Linked DNA regions of Homo sapiens. The protein of the gene in region 3 purifies or fractionates together with the protein of the main gene of each other region. This does not show direct contact. Each region holds a gene or a part of one and is shown on either strand. Other genes may lie near its edges.

Region 1 (3,500 bases), on a different chromosome or scaffold from region 3:
CCTGGGTGACAGAGGGAGACTACATCTCAAAAAAAAAAAAACCCAAAAAACAAAACAAAACAAAACCCAGGCGATGGGTCATATTGGGCCCATGGGCTGTAGCTTGCTAATCCCTAGGCTGTAGGATAGATGAGAGGGGAAAAACTCTGAAAGACAGAGACCATCCTAAGGTGAGCAAGTGACACTAGAATGGGAGAGTACTAGCCAAGTAGAGGTAGTTTTGAGCTGGATTCTGTTTTAGTTAAATTGCAAGGGGAAAAAAATATTAGGAGTTGAGGTTGAACAAGTATGGAATCTCCTTGTATAGCAAGGGTATTGTAGCTTTTTTTTTTTTTTTTTTTTTAAAGAGACAGGGTCTTGCTCTGTCACCCAGGTTGGAGTACAGTGGTGCCATCATAGCTCACTGCAGCCTTGAACTTCTGGGCTCAAGCGATCCTCCTGTCTCAGCCTCCTGGGTAGCTGAGACTACAGCCACATGTCACTGCACCCAGCTAATTTAAAAATTTTTTATAGAGACAGTATCTTGCTTTGTTGCCCAGGCTGGTCTTAAACTCCTAGCTTCAAGCCACCCTCTTGCCTTGGCCTCCCAAAGTGCTGGGATTACCGGTGTAATCACCACGCCTGGCCTCCCATCATTTCTTTGCTCTTCATATATTCCATCTCAATTTTCTATTGCTGTGTCATGAACTATCTTTAAACTTAATTTCGTTTGGAAAACTTTGGGCTTAAGACAACAATTTGTTATTTTCATGATTCTGTGGGTTGGGCTTGGTTGGAGGGTTCTGCTGGTCTTGCCTGAGCTCCTCTCGTGGCCACATTCAGCTGGTGGAAAGGGAGGAGGATAGGAAAGCTGAGACTTTCTCTCCCTGCAGCCTGTTGGTGCGATAGCTTGGGTTTCTTACAGGTCTCCAGTGTTCCTAGAGAGCAAGAGGGAAAGTGGCAAGGAGTCTTGGTATTTGGAAATCACAGGATGTTACTTCCACTGGAGTTGTGAGATAATATAAGTCCCATGGCCAGCCTGGGTATAGAGGATGGGGAAATAGACTCCCATCTTGGTCAGAGAAGCTGCAAAGTTAGTGTATTAATTAGGACAGACTGTAAGAAATAGACCCCTAAATGTCTTTTTCTTGTTCGCTAAACAGTCCAAGGAGGGTGTTCTTGGTTTGCAGGTGGCGGGCCATTCTCTCATGCTCCAGACCCCTTCCCCTCTGCAGCATTATCATTGGTGCATCTAGAAGGGGGAGAAAGTGCAGAGAAGACAAAGCCTTATTTCCCAAAGTTGCCCTCATCAGTGCATTCCCTTATGCTTGCGTTCCCTTAGCTAGCATTTAGTCACAACACTGCAAAGAAAATGGAGAATGAAGTTTAGCTGAGCTCAGGAAGAAGAGAATAGGCTGGATGTGGTGGGTCACACCTGTAATCCTGGCACTTTGGGATGCCAAGGTGGGAGGATTGCTTGAACCCAGGAGTTCAAGACCAGTCTGGACAATGTGGTGAAGCCCCATATCTACCAAAATACAAAAATTAGTCAGGTGTGGTGGCACGTGCCTATAGTCCCAGCTACTCGGAAGGCTGAGGTGGGAGGATGGTTGGAGACTGGAAGGCAGAGGTTGCAGTGAGCCGAGATTGTACCACTGCACTCCAGCCTCGGTGACAGAGCCAGAACCTGTCTCAAGAAAAAAAAAAAAAAAAAGGAAAAAGAAAATATGCTGAATAGCTAGTAGTCTCTGCCACAGCTAATGATAAGCTGTCATATCAGTTATGTATTGCTATAGAACAACCTACCTCAAAACTTAGTAGCTTAAAACAATCATCATTTGCTCAGATGCCTGCAGTTAGGTATGGACTCAGCTGGCCAGTTCTGCAGATCTTGCCTGACTCACTTGTGGTTGTGTTTATCTGATGGCTCAACTGTGGCTGGAGGGTCCGAGATGGCCCTGCTCACATGGCTGGTGGTTGGCTACAGTGCCTCACTTCTCTGCTCCATGGCTTTTCTGGCAGGATAGCCCGGGTTTCTTACATGGTGGCAGCAACGGTGTTCCTAGAGGACAGGCGCCAGTGTGCAAGCCCTTCCTAAGCCTCTGGTTCTGCAACCTTTGCTAATGTCCTCTTTGCCAGAGCATGTTACATAGATAAGCCCAGAGTCAGTGTGACTATGGATTCCAGGAGGTGTGGTTTATTGAGGGGCTAATGAACAATCTAATGTCACAATATACCACAGCCATGAAAATCAACCAAAACAAAAAGAGCATAGGGGAGCAAGGGAAAGATATGGGATGATCAACAAAGGCTCTTTCATGGAGGTTTTACTAACTTGAGGAAGCCAAGCCATGAAATATTTGGGGGAAGAGTGTGCCAGGCAGAGGGAACAGCAGATGCAAACTTCTTGGATGGGAACATGCTTGGCATGTTATTGGAACCCCAAGGAGTCCACTGTGGTTGGAGAGCAGGGAGTGGGCAGGGAAAGGATGAAGAGGGACGCAGTGGGAGACAGAAGCTGGTCATAGGGGGCTTTGCTAAGACGCTAAGGTACTTGAAGTTTTTTTTTTTTTTTTCTTTTGAGACAGGGTCTCACTCTGTCACCCAGGCTGCAGTGCAGTGGCACTGTCATGGCTCACTGAAGCCTCGACCTCCCAGGCTCAGTCCTTCCTCCCACTTCAGCCTCCCAAGTAGCGGGGACTGCAGATGTGCATCACCATCGCTGGCTACATTTTAAAAATTTTGTAGAGATAGGGTCTCCCTATGTTGCTCAGGCTGGTCTCCAACTCCTGGGCTCAAGTGATGCTCATGCCTTGGCCTCCCAAAGTGCTGAGATTACAGGTGTGAGCCATCATGTCCAGCCTTGGATTTTGTTCTAACTGTGATAGAAGCCCTTTGAACCAGGGGTTATATTTTTAAATGATCTTCTGATTGCTGCAGGGTAAACAGACTGTAGGAGGTAGGAATGAGAGCAGGGAGACAAGTTGGTAGTTATTGTGGAAGTCCAAGCCCTCAATGACTGTGCTTTTGACTGGTATGATTGTTGTGGGGTGGATGGGGCAGGTGGCTGGATTCAGAAGATCAAGTATGTGGAAGGTGCTGATGAATCTGATGTGGATGTGAAGGAGAATCAAGAATCGAAGATTATTCCTAGGTGTTTGGCTTGAGTGCTAGGAGAATGGGGGTCCCCTTGTTTGAAATGTAAGACTGGAGGTGGAATAGATTGGGTTTGACAGTCAAGTCCTGTTTGACATGCTACATTTGTCAAGTAGACAGCTGGATGTGTGAGCTTGGAGCTCTGAGAAAGGCTGGAGATACGAAGTTCACTTAATAGACCATGAACCAATTTTTCAAATTATTAAAGTATTATTATTGTTTAATTAATACATAATAGATGTACATATTTTCAGGGTATGTGTGATATTTAGATACATTCATATAATGTATAATAATCAAATCCAGGTAACTGGGCTATCCATTACCTTAGATGTTTATCTTTTCTTTATACTGAGAACATTCGG
Region 2 (3,500 bases), on a different chromosome or scaffold from region 3:
CACAATATTCATCTTCTTTATGGCAATATTTTAGGTTACTGTTCTTCATCTGTCCTTTGTTTTTCTGTTTCTTTCTTCCTTTTTTATTTCCAAACATTTGTGGCAGTCAAGCTTAATGAATTCCTTTTGATTATTCATCTCTGAAGAAGTGCTGGTTGTCCAGAACCTGATATTTGTAGGAGGTTTATGCAGAAGGCCAGAGTGCCTCCAGTTCTGGACTGACAACTTTTTCGTGATTCAGAGATTTACCTAAGAGACAGTTTAGCATTTTACTTCTCAACAGCCAATGCAGACAGGCAGTCTGGAGGTTTTTCACAATGCAGTCATCTCCTCCCCAACTGCTATAGAGATAGACACATATTACTTCCTGCAAAAATGGCTTGTTTATGTGACTCCTTGTTTGGCTTCATTTCCCCGACTTCTTAGAATTAAACCAGGTGCAGGAAAGCTCCTGCCTTGAGCTGAAGAAACCCACTTCACTTTTGTAAACAAGGGGTTTAGGTTTTATACCTCAGGGGGGCCTTGCAGTTTCATGGGTGTTTCTTGTTGTCTCTGAGCTCCACAGCCACGGCATCCTACCTACTTCTTCCCACATGCAGCCAGCCTGATGGCCACTGCTCCTGGCAACATTTCCACCTATTTTGTGGCTTGGGGTTTTTAACTGTCTTCTAGTTTAGTGGAATGCTGGGTTTGTGTGTCAGTTTTTCCCTCTCTTTGTTGTTTTTAGCTAATTGCCAAGAAAGAAGAATGCTAACTTTATAGTACCATCTGCAAATCCCAAATCCAACAATTATCTTAAAAGAGTATTTTATGCAAGACAGAAACTTAAGTGTCTCACTAAGTTACTAAAAGGTAACAATACACTTTCCTTACTACTATTTTACTGTGGGGTAAAATACCAATTTTCATAAAACACTAATTTTCACAAGGCCATTAAGTAATTGTTTTTATGTTTAAAACTCATGTGTGGGCTGGGCGTGGTGGCTCACACCTGTAATCCTAGCACTTTGGGAGGCTGAGGCGGGTGGATCACTTGAGGTCAGGAGTTCAAGACCAGCCTGGCCAATATAGTAAAACCCCATCTCTACTAAAAACATAAAAATTAGCAAGGCATGGTGGCACACACCTGCAATCCCAGCTTCTTGGGAGGCTGAGGCAGAAGAATCACTTGAACCTGGGAGGCGGAGATTGCAGTGAGCTGAGATCATGCACCACTGCACTCCGGCCTGGGCAACACAGCGAGACTCTTGTCTCCAAAAAAAAAAAAAAAATATATATATATATATATGTTATTACCTAAGGCTGAAAGTAATCTGATGCTTCAATGTAAAAGATATTTTGTTCAACATATTCAAGATCTAGGGCCTATTTGGGGAACAAATTACATATATTTTCACCAGCATACTATAATCTTAGTATTTGTCTTTGCAGAAGACAAAGCCTTTTTAGTAATAAAGACAACCCACGATTTGTCATGCCACAAGTCCCCAAATTCCATTTGGGTTTGTAATGAAGACAGTTAATATTATATGTATGTTCATTCCTTCAGTAAAATTTTAACTTTAGGCAAGTTTATTTTCCTGCCAGTTGCTACTGCTCTCCTCCTGGCTAGCCAATACCAATACGTACTCAGGCAGGTTCTGACCAAAATAAGGTTTTACTACTAAGTAATTTTTTATAGGAGTAAATAATACACCAGTATGGGCACAGTGGCTCACACCTATAATCTCAACACTTTGGGAGGCCCAAGGTGGGTGGATCACTTGAGGCCAGGAGTTCAAGACCAGACTGGCCAACATAGCAAAACCCATCTCTACTAAAAATACAAAAATTAGCCAGGTGTGGTGGTGCATGCCTGTAGTCCCAGCTACACAGGAGGCTGAGGCACCAGAATCACTTGAATGGGGAGGTGGAGGCTGCAGTGAGCCAAGGTTGTGCCACTTCACTCCAGCCTGGGCAACAGAGCAAGACTGTGTCTAAAAATAAATAAATAAAATTAAATAATAATAATTATTATTATAATACAACAAAGCCAAATTACAATGGATTTTGAATTCGTGTTTTAAATGATTCCCTTTCCTATGACACAAATAAGAGTAAATCTGTAAATCTTAATATCATGCAAAAGCTAAGTAATGCCTAATTTATTGAAAATTTAGAGGCACCATGAGTTCATATGAAGAAAAAGAAACAAACAAACATGAGCTCCTCCTGAGCTGGGCATGGTGGTACATGGCTGTAGTTCCAGCTACTTGGGAGGCTGAGGCAGGAGGATCACTTGAGCCCAGGAGTCTCAGGCCAGCCTGGGCAACACAGTGAGACACTGCCTCACAAAAAAAGAAAAAAAAAGAGCTCTTACTTACAGAATTCCAAACAAGATACATAGACAGAGTGATGGCATTTTAAAAAAATCCCCATTTGATAACCATCACAGTTGGAATGAAAAGATCATATACTGTCCTTATCACTTGTCACAGGCAAGAATTATCAATGGATGCTACAACAGGAGGGCAAAAAGTGTAAGAAGGAGGATACCTATACAGTCTCAATGTATCTCTCTACAAGAAATATATTAGTTATGAAGGGAAAAATAATAACTTCACTGACACTATGTTCTGAAAAACACTTCTGTGGAATTGCTGCCAAAACTGCATAACCTGAATCTAACCGTTAAGGACATACTGGACATACACAAATTGAGAGACATTCTACAAAATAATTATTTACTCTTCAAAAATGTCAAGGCCCTGAAAAGGCAAATAAAGACTGAAGAATTGCTGATTAAAAGAGGCTGAAGAGGCTCGACGCGGTGGCTCACACCTGCAATCCCAGTACTTTGGGAGGCCGAGGTGGGTAGATCACTTGAGGTCAGGAGCTCAAGACCAGCCTGGCCAACATGGTAAACCCCGTCTCTATCAAAAATACAAAAAAAAATTAGCCAGGCGCAGTGGCATGTGCCTGTAGTCCCAGCTACTTGGGTGGCTGAGGCAGGAGGATCACTTGAACCTGAAAAGTGGAGGTTGCACTGAGCTGAGTTGGTGCCACTGCACTCAGCCTGAGCGACAGAGCTAGACTCTGTCTCGAAAATAAATTAATTCATTAATTAAATGAAATAAAAGAGGCTAAAGAGAAATAACTAAAATCAGTGTATGATCCTGGACCCGAAACAATTATTTGTCTTTTGCTATATGGGACATTAATGGGACAACTGATAAAATCTGTGTATAGACAATAAAATGTATCTATGTTCATTTAAGAAATACACATTAAAGTATGCAGACGTTGAAGACATCATGTCTACAATCTACTCTCATTTTTTTAAAAAAGAATACTGTGTGTAGAGAGAGAATGATAAAGCAAATGTGACAAACATTAACATCTGGAGTAATTTAATAGGATACATAAGAATTATTTGTGCTATTTTTACAAATCTTTGAGTCTGAAATTGTTTCACAATAAAATTTTAAAAATAGACATACAATCAATGAAAACAAATAAAG
Region 3 (3,500 bases):
CTGGGCAACGTAGCAAGACCCTATCTCTACAAAAATTACAAAAATTAGCAGCATGTAGTGGTATGCGCCTGTAATCCCAGGAGGCTGAGGTGGGCGGACTACTGGAGCCCAGGAGTTTGAAGTTACGGTGAACTGTATGATTGCACCATTGCACTCCAGCCTTGGTGACAGAGCAAGACCCTGTCTCTAAAAGAAATAAATAAGTAAATAAATAAATATAAAGAAACAAACAAGCTGTTCCCTGCCTTCCCATTCCCTTCATCATTTTATCATGCTGTCTGTCCCCTTTCGTTAAGAATTTTCCCTTCTCTCATCAACATAACTAGTAAACAAATCTCCACCTCTCCTAAATTTACACACTCTAAAAAAGCTGTCAGTGTATGCTTACCATTATATAGCAAGATAAATGATCTCTACAAGCCATATAAGAAAGTCAAAGCCATCCTCACAATGCTACATTATATCTCATTGAGAACCTTGGAGAGTGATATAATGCGACTTCATAGCATAAAGCAACTTCTAGGTGTGTCAAAAAGTTATGAATACAATTATTAGACAAAACATTGCCATTATGGAAGTATCAAACAAAATTATTATTTTGTTTGATACTTACTGGTATGTATGCACAAGATGGGCTTGCATAACAATAAATTTCAATAAACACCTAGCAGCCATCAAAGGTTCTAGAACCAACTTACAAATTCTGGGTTTACCTAATTCTAGTAATGACACACTGAGTAATTTTCACAGCTGCTGAAGCTATAATTAGAGCCCAAAATGAACCTAAATTTCTAAAATGTGAGGAATTATCAATTTCCAAGAAGAGGATTCCGACGCCCTTTGAAAGGACTCAGTACCTTTTAGCATCTTTTACCAGTATCCACATAAAGGATGTTAAATAAAAAGTACTGATGCATTTCCCATTTTTAGATCAAGACTAAGTCATCTTGACATGGGTTACCTGTTAATTCCAGTTCACAAAAACACCACACACACACAAAAGTTCTTACAGCATAATACTGGCATCCTGCCCGCCTTCTGAAAGCACAGGGACCATCAGGATCATTTTCTTCTTCCGGTTCTGATACTGGGGACAATACCTAGACAAAAGAGGCATTCCATTTAGAAGTTATCAAAAGTCAATAGATCAATGTTTGTAATACTCTAAAATGTAAATCTGATCACAAACAGTAAATCACTTCTATATTACATATCATAAGTACTGAATTCCCCAAAACATTCAATGACTAGCAAAAATTTTCTATAGTTAAAAATCATTGTTTTTAATGGATTAGTTCTTTCAGGTTAAGTCTAGATGGCATTGGTATTGCTTGATTGCTTCTAAACATGAAGTGCTAAGTCTTAGAATTAATACAGTTTTTATACATCCCATTATATTTTATAAATAATGTATGTGGCTATAAATATTTAATGACAGTTAAATATTTACTTCACCTATAGGTTAAGTGTATTTTTATCCAATAACTTTATCTCTCTGTAATAAAGCCAAAAGCTAGGACATAAAAACAGCTTATAAACAGCCAAAAAAAATCACCACAACAAAAAAAACCCCAAAGGCCATAAAGGCCAGGTTTTATTCAAAGGAAAGTCTTGTATCTCCCAACTCATTTTTCAAAAATCACTTTTTAAACTTAGCAGATCAGAAGTAGAAAAGAAGAAGAGAAATGACTTGCTAAAGTAAGCACATTGGTTATAGAGAAGAGATAAGCCCGCAACGCTAGAGCAAAAGAATAAAGACTTTCAGAAAGCTGTCACATATTAGAAAGCACTCTTCCCAGGCCATGTCCTATCAGGCCAAATATCCCTATGTAATTGAGTGGACTTCTAGGGCAGTAGCATTGACCTATTAGAGCACGCTTTATAAATGTCACAAAAACAGATTAAATAATATACAAATACACTGAAGATAGGGAAATAATATGTTTTAGATAAATTTCCACCCATAATTATTAAAATTTTTTTAAAAGTTTTGGTACTTAAGTTTCAGTTGTCTCGCACTCTCACTTTGTAGAACATCTCTTTTTCTGATAAACGCTGGCTCAACCATATTTACTTGCAAATTTCTGAACCTCACAAATCCCTCTCTTCCTATTTCGAGAGGAAAAATGTTTTCTCCATATTATTTCCAAACTGTGGTAATTACCACTGAGCAGGGTCATCCAGGGGAGAAAGGTATTTGTTTGAGGTTCCAATATACCTCCACCAACCCTATGGGGGAGACACAGAAACAGTGAGCTGGGGCTGAATCTTCTTCATGGGGAACCAAGCCTCAAACCTGAAATTTGAAAGGAAATCCCAAACGTGAATTTTACACTTTGGTTCCTTTGCAAATAACGTACCTATTCTAAGATATACACAGGAAGTGTCACAAAGTCTCAGAAATTCTGTGTATAAAATCTATCACCCCTTCCTCCTAACTACGATTCCCCGGGGTAGATTCCAGGGGACAAAAGAAGTCTGAGGCATAGGAAGACAAAGCTAATGTTAGGAAAATCGGAAGCACGATCAAGAGGCAGAGTTTTAGCTCTGTTCAGCTGCAATTCAGTGGCATAAGTCTGGTTAAAATGTTTGTTCTCTTAAGGCTCCCTATTCCTTGTTCTTGGTTTATTAGACAAAGAAAAATATGATTACTTTAATGATCTTGTCAGCAATAAAATCCTGATTTTATAAGATGTACACTCTGAATAGCTGCCTCACTGAATGACGCCCAAATATAGGTAAACATTAATACTTACTCTTTAGTAATATGGAGATACCATAAAATTAATGAGGATTGTCTAAGACCTAATACAAACAATCAGAAGAACCTAAAAGTTTCAAAATGCAATTTTCATGTGGGTATGGGAACTGGAAACTATATAAATCAATGCAAGAATTTGGAGCAGAAATGAAGATCCCTTAATGCATGAGAAACATATGAGTAGTTATGCTGAGTGAGCTCTACTTTCAGGCTGGATGTACTGATTCCACCGATAAAAGTTTCTGTAGGTCATAGCACCCTACAGTATCATTCATTTTTTTTTTTTTTTTTTGAAACAGGGTCTTGCTCTGTCGCCCAGGCTGGAGTACAGTGGTGCAACCTTGGCTCACAGCAACCTTCATCTCCCTGGCTCGAGCAATCCTCCCGCCTCAGCCTCCGGAGTAGCTGGGACTACAGGCATGTGTCACCACGCCTGGCTAATTTTTCTACGTTTGTTTCTGTTTTTTCGGTAAAGATGGGGTTTCACCATGTTGCCCAGGCTGGTCTCCAAGTCCTGGGCTCAAGCAATCCACCTGCTTCGGCTTCCCAAAGTGCTGGGATTACAGGCATGAGCCACAATGTCCAGTCTACAGCATCATTCTTAAAGGGCTGGAAATATATAGCAAAACTTTCTAGGCTCTCATTAGTACCACCAATATAAGCCTATTATACAAATATTTATCTAACTATGTCATTTTCTTACTTAACATTTTAAATAATTTCCCAGTATGTATGATGT

Evidence for each region.
Region 1: the proteins of EPC2 (region 3) and KSR2 purify together in Homo sapiens (co-immunoprecipitation; one large-scale study listed by IntAct). This does not show direct contact.
Region 2: the proteins of EPC2 (region 3) and RAB18 purify together in Homo sapiens (co-immunoprecipitation; one large-scale study listed by IntAct). This does not show direct contact.

What each region holds. Positions count from the first base shown.
Region 1 is NC_000012.12:117,958,991-117,962,490, reverse strand, and holds part of KSR2 (kinase suppressor of Ras 2), read left to right. Parts: intron 1-3,500. UniProt on the Homo sapiens protein: Location-regulated scaffold connecting MEK to RAF. Has very low protein kinase activity and can phosphorylate MAP2K1 at several Ser and Thr residues with very low efficiency (in vitro).
Region 2 is NC_000010.11:27,510,804-27,514,303, reverse strand, and holds part of RAB18 (ras-related protein Rab-18), read right to left. Parts: intron 1-3,500. UniProt on the Homo sapiens protein: The small GTPases Rab are key regulators of intracellular membrane trafficking, from the formation of transport vesicles to their fusion with membranes.
Region 3 is NC_000002.12:148,766,751-148,770,250, reverse strand, and holds part of EPC2 (enhancer of polycomb homolog 2), read right to left. Parts: intron 1,101-3,500; coding exon 1,011-1,100; intron 1-1,010. UniProt on the Homo sapiens protein: May play a role in transcription or DNA repair.